Regions from separate parts of the Homo sapiens genome. Here region 1 is linked to region 2. The links come from fine-mapping of genetic effects on gene expression. A gene starts in region 2. The other region holds a variant in brackets. All regions are shown on one strand. Distances are from middle to middle.

What was found. PIP is the estimated chance that this variant, and not a neighbour inherited with it, causes the effect.
Region 1: its variant is fine-mapped to the expression of CD177 in whole blood (TOPMed, PIP 0.92).

Annotation. Positions count from the first base shown.
Region 1 is chr19:43,315,968-43,318,879 of GRCh38, reverse strand. No RefSeq gene overlaps it. Among named protein-coding and RNA genes, the nearest start is that of LINC03078, 14 kb to the left of the region's middle. The variant T/C (reference allele first, on the strand shown) is at 1,537.
Region 2 is chr19:43,351,940-43,354,851 of GRCh38, reverse strand. CD177 (CD177 molecule) reads right to left here and starts at 1,166. Exons shown (of 9, transcript NM_020406.4): 1 at 1,086-1,166; 2 at 859-999; 3 at 460-645. The coding sequence starts at 1,137.

The sequences.
Region 1 (2,912 bases), 36 kb after region 2:
GGCTAGATTTTTGCTCTGTAAGTTAGTCAAGAGAATATTTAAGGCTAGCCGTGACACTATTATGTGTCTTTCTTTAAAATTTGATTCTCCTCAAACTATCTTGGCAAAATTATGACTGAGACAGTGAAAGAGATCTAACCTAACCTAATGAACACCGTCTTGCTTCTAACCTCCAAGCTGTCCTTGTTCGGTCCTGGGCATAGGCTGAACTAACTTTAATAGGAATTTAGTTTACAGTTTAAAACAAAGACGATAACAGCCCTTTCCCAAAACGAACCTCCTTCTTGCCTGGGGACAAGACTGCCTTTGTGGGACTAACAAATTAGCCACAAGATTAGAAATTACGGTTTAAGAGTCATGCAGCTGGAGGCTACAAGATTCTGACCCTCTCTAAACTGCTCCTGAGATCTGTCTGAGCTATTTGGCAGACCCTGCACTTGATGGATGGATGAGCTGGCCCCACCCAGATCGATAAAATGGGTCATTTGATCTTGTGACCTCTACTCAGGAACTGACTCAGCAAAAAAGGACAGCTTCAACTTCCCATGATTTCATCTCCTACCTAACCAATCAGCACTCATGCTACATCAGCTGACATTAAAATTACTTAGATATACAATTTGAATGAACGTCATGGTCTAAGTCAAATTACCTATGATAACCCATCAGTTATCAGTGCTATGCACATAATTTGAAGAAAAACTATGATTCAAGAGGATATGAGTCTAATATTAATTAAGCATGGACTCATGGAGAACCAGGATGGCCACCTTGTCCTTCCTAAGTCCTTAAAGCTTTTATTATTAAAAGTTCTGCATTCCATGACTCATCATGGAAAAGATAAAAATATTCAAATGGAATATATTGGTGTGGTGACTTATAAATTGTTAAAAGAATTTATAACCAATGTTTGGCCCCATATTCCTGGGAAAACAATCAAAGCTTCAGGTACACTTGGTCACCTGCTGGTCCATTTAAACATTTTATAATGAGATTTCATTCAATTGTTATTTTCAATGCATATTTTCTGGTTCTGGTTGTATAAAAGCTCTCCCATGCAAGAGGGCTCATGTTATCTACTAAGTTATTATGTTACAGTGTATTTTCACCAGATAAAGAAAACTTTCTATAGTTCACTAAAGATAATCAACGCATTCACAACCTAGAATCCAGAAGTAGAATTGCTGGATCAAGTAGTAATTCTTTAATTTATTGAGAAACTGCCATACCACTTTCCACAGCATCTATAACATTTCCCATCACCAGCAGCAATGCACTAGAGCCCTAATTTTTCCACCTACTTGAAAACACTTGTGGTTTCATGTTGTTGTTGTTTTTATTAAAGCCATTTTAATGTGTGTGAGGTGGTGTATTACTGTGGTTTTGATTTGCATATCCGTAAGTATTAGTGATGTTGAGAATCCTCGCATGTCCTCACTGGCAATGTGTGTGTCTTCCTTTGGGAAGTATTTTAGTCTTTTGTTCACTTTTAAATTCGGGTTTTTGGATTTTTGCTGTATTTGACTTGTAGTAGTT[T/C]GAGTCAAGTACAAATTGTGAGGTCCTGTTCCAGCCATTGGAAGCCGCACACAGCAGTAGGGTGGATGCATCAGGTTATAAATGACCTTGTCTCCTTTGTTCGTGTGTGCATTCATGGCAAGACTGCTGGCGAGCGGCACTTTTTCTGCAGAAAGTAAACTAGCCTTGCTGAGAGATGCTGTGCCTCAGTGCTGATCTTTATGACACCGAGCACCCGTTACCAACAATTTGAAGGCCCCAGCGAGATTAACATTCCCCTCTGGGACAGTCTTTGGCCCTGTCTTGTGGGGAGGCGCCCTGCCGCCCGTTGCGGCAGCCCCAGGAGGAGAGCCGGGACCTACCCGGTGAGAGGAATATACTTGAATTCTCAGCAACGCGGGGAAAGAGACAGGCTTGCGGGACTCCCCACAGTAACCAGGCAACGCCGTGCATGGGCCAAGGTAGGAAAAGCCGCAAGAGGGCAGCAAAGTACTTCCTTGGTGGTCAGCTTTTGGGAGGCTGAGTGTGTGTGCACGATTACCAACTTGTTGCTGGACAGAGTGCGTGGACATAAACGGGAAGAGTGTAAGGAACCTCCAAAAGGGAAACGGAGGAAGGTTAACCTCGCAGGGAAAGAGAATCGGTGAAACACCTCTGGTGTGAGAGATTAAGCCTTGAGGACAGGACAGACGAGACATCCCCGGTATCTGGGGGATTCAGCCTTCCTGGGAAAGGAAGAGGCAAAACATCCCTAGCACAAGGGATTGGGCCTATCTGGGATTCAACATGGGAAATGCTTCTAGTAGGATTGGGACAGGAAATAGACCAGGCAACAAGGGAGGGGACAGTGATCAAATTTCCTTTGATAGTCCCTTAGGATTCATGCTATAATATTGGAAAGAGGATGAGCGGACTAAATATAAGAGAAAACAACAGATGATTAAATATTGCTGTTTCCTCTGGACCCAAGAGCCAACCTTAAAACCTGCCATTTTCTGGCCAAAATTTGGTTCAGATGAGGATTGGGTCTGTCAACTTTTAATAATGTATGTTAACAACCAAAGCCCCATGTCCCCAGAAAAAATGGATTATGCCTTATGCTAGCAGCAAGGGCCTGCCCTTCTTTACCCCTTAAATGACTTAAAGACGGTAACAGACAGAAACAAAGGCCCAGAGCAGTTAGTGGGATCCTTTAAATTATCTTCCCGTTTCTGAATCCCACGGCGCTGCTGCTGCCTGCCGTATGGCTGCCGCCTTCTCCTCCTCAGATGGAACTCCCGCCTCCCACTCCTCCTCCGGCAGAAGTCCCGCCTCCCCTCCTCCTCAGGCGGAAGTCTCGTCCCCCCCACCCGCTCCAGGGATCACTCTGGACTTGGAGGCGTCTGTTCCCGAGGAAT
Region 2 (2,912 bases):
AAGCTGTTCCAATAAAAGAAGCGCAAAATATCTCCCTAGACTCTTTATAACACCAGACAAGGAAAGTGGAAAGTTACAGTTCAGTCTCCCTTAGGAAGAGGAAATAGCAAAAACCCTGCAGGAGAACTTCTTGAACCAAACGCAACAGAATAAAAAAAGAATGCAGGATAACCCAGTTAATGGTGATTTCATATCAGAAATCCGTCCTGTTTGCTCTTAGAAGAGGAGGGGTGCGGGGATTCCCGGGTGGCAGGTCGGTGGGAGGGATCGGGAGTGAGTGGGGAGGGATGGAAAGGGAGCGGGGCGGGGCGATGGTCAGGGAGCAGTCAGGGGAGGGATGGAGCCAGCGAGGGTCGGGATAGCGAGCGAGGGTGGGAGGGACTCCGTAACAGCCCCTCTGTGCTCAGCGGATCCCCTTCTAGCAGCCCCTCCCTCTCCTCCCGACCCTCCCGCAGGCACCTGCTGGGGGCTGTGGGGCCCAAAGCGGGAGGGAGTTAACGAGGTTGTTGCAGAAGTCCTCCTGGCGGCACACGAAGGTGTAGGAGATCAGGGAGAGGCCGGGGCCCATCCGGTGCTCAGTGACGCGGGGCTCCTGGTCCTTGGCCTCCGTGCAGCCCTTGGAGAGCACCAGGCTCACTTGGGGTCCTGGACCGAAAGAGGGAGGCAAGCGAGGATGGAGGTCAGGCCTCCAGGGTCCTGGAGGGAGACGCTGCTACACGGCGTAGGCTGAGAGGCTGGAAAGGGGATCACCGGGACCCTAGGAGTCGATCCCCCGGAGGGGTGGCTCCCGGGTCCCTGCACAGGGATCAAGGGACTGAGGGGACAGGGCGGGGTCTCTGCACGCCAGGGCCTTCTCACCGCTCTCAATGAGCATCAACGTGTCCTGGCACCCCAAGCCGCTGTCGCAGCTGGTGTTCTTAGGGGTCCATTGCCGGGGCAGGTCGGACACCTTCCACACATGCTGAACTGTCCCAAACTGGCAGAGCAGCGCCTGCACTCCTGGAGTGGCAAGAGCAAATCCATCTCAGCAGGGTTCCCTTGCCCGGCCTCCAGGGAATCTCCTCCAGGCTGGGCTCATCACTCACCTGGCAGTGGGAGGATGAACCCCAGGAGGGCCAGCAGTAATACCGCGCTCATGACCCGTCTGTGGCTGGTAATCTCTTTCTGCTTTTTCAGCAGGAAACAAGTCCTTTATACCAGCCCTTAAGCAGCCAGCCCAGAAAAGGGTGGGGAGGGGAGGGCCTTGCAAAATGGAGGCTTGGGCCCCACCCCAAGTCTCAATGGCCGCAGTGGCCTATCAGGGACCCCCTTTCTTCCTCAGACCTTCGGGTCCAGGCATCCAGCCCCTCCTCCCTCAGATGGAGGGTCCAGGACCCCCAGCCCCTCAGCCCCTCCTCCTTCAGACCCAGGAGTCCAGACCCCCAGCCCCTCCGCCCTCAGACCCAGGAGTCCAGGCCCCCAGTCCCTCCTCCCTCAGACCCAGGAGTCCAGGCCCCCAGTGCCTCCTCCCTCAGACCCAGGAGTCCAGCCCCCCAGCCCCTCCTCCCTCAGACCCAGGAGTCCAGGCCCCAGGCCTCCCTCTCTCAGACCCAGGAGTCCAGGCCCCGAGGCCCTCCTCCCTCCGACCCAGGAGTCCAGACCCCCAGGCCCTCCTCCCTCAGACCCAGGAGTCCAGGCCCCCAGGCCCTCCATAGTTAGAAACTGTGGCATCTTGACCCGAGGTTCCCCCGGTCCAGACTCCCAGCCCTCTTTCCTCCTGAGCCCAGCTATGTGGATCACCACCCCCACCCTCTTTCTCCAGTAGTTTGGGAAGGCAGTTTCCTCATTTCTCATGGGCTCCCTGGCCACCTCTGTACCCCAGATGGGGAAATGGCCCAACTACCTGTGAGGACGTTGTGCAGTGGGCATCAGCTTGTCCCCATGTCTTCCGGTCCTAGTTTCTACCCTCCACTGTCTTCCCACTTCTCTGTTCTTTCTCTTTCCTTCTTATATTGCTTTCTTTTGATTCTTCTTTTCATGCTTTTCTCTCATGCTTTCTCTTCTATTCTCTACCCTCACAGTACAACATAGGACTCAAGTCCCCAGTTTCCTACCACCAGGAAAGGCTTGGCCAGAGGTGGAGTAGAGACTGAATATCTATGAAAGAATTAGGATATATCTGAAAAATGCAACATTTATTTGCTGGAAGCCGATGGGAGAGCAGTGTTGTGCTGAAAAACCAAGTTTTCTGAAAAACAATACCCACAAATCCTGCCTCGTAGTGTTGGCCTATTTCTCTGGTGTAAATACTCATAGCATGTCTGATTTTAAGCTACCTACAGTTTGCCAACCAGGCTGATGAAATCCCTAGCTATTTAACCATGGGCTTGTCCAGGGCTGTACAAATCAGCTGTAACACACTGGGGTGGCGGGGAGGAAGACAGGAAGGAACCTGGGGTATCTGTCAGTGACTGCAGAGGGACGTTGTGGGTGTCTGTGACGGAGAGAGGAGAAGCAGAAGAGGGAAGGCGAGAGCAGGAATAGCAGAGAAAGAGAAATGAATGTGACTTGCAATTATATGTTTATTTTTGACATCTCTATAAATTTTATCTTTATTTGTCTTTGCAAGTTTATTGCAAGTTTAATATTTGCCACACAGACAGGGAAGTGTTTGTCTGATCTCCTGCTATGTCTCCACCACCTACATGGCATACAGTACATGCCCAGTAATTTTTTTTTTTTTTTAGAAACAGAGTCTTGCTCTCACCTATGCTGGAGTACAGTGGTGCAGTTGTAGCTCACTGCAGGTCACTACAGCCTCCATCTCCTGGACTCAAGCAACTCTCCCACCTCAGCCTCCCGAGTAACTGGGACTACAGGTGCACACCACCATGTCTGGTTAATTTTTGTATTTTCAATAGAGACAGGGTTTC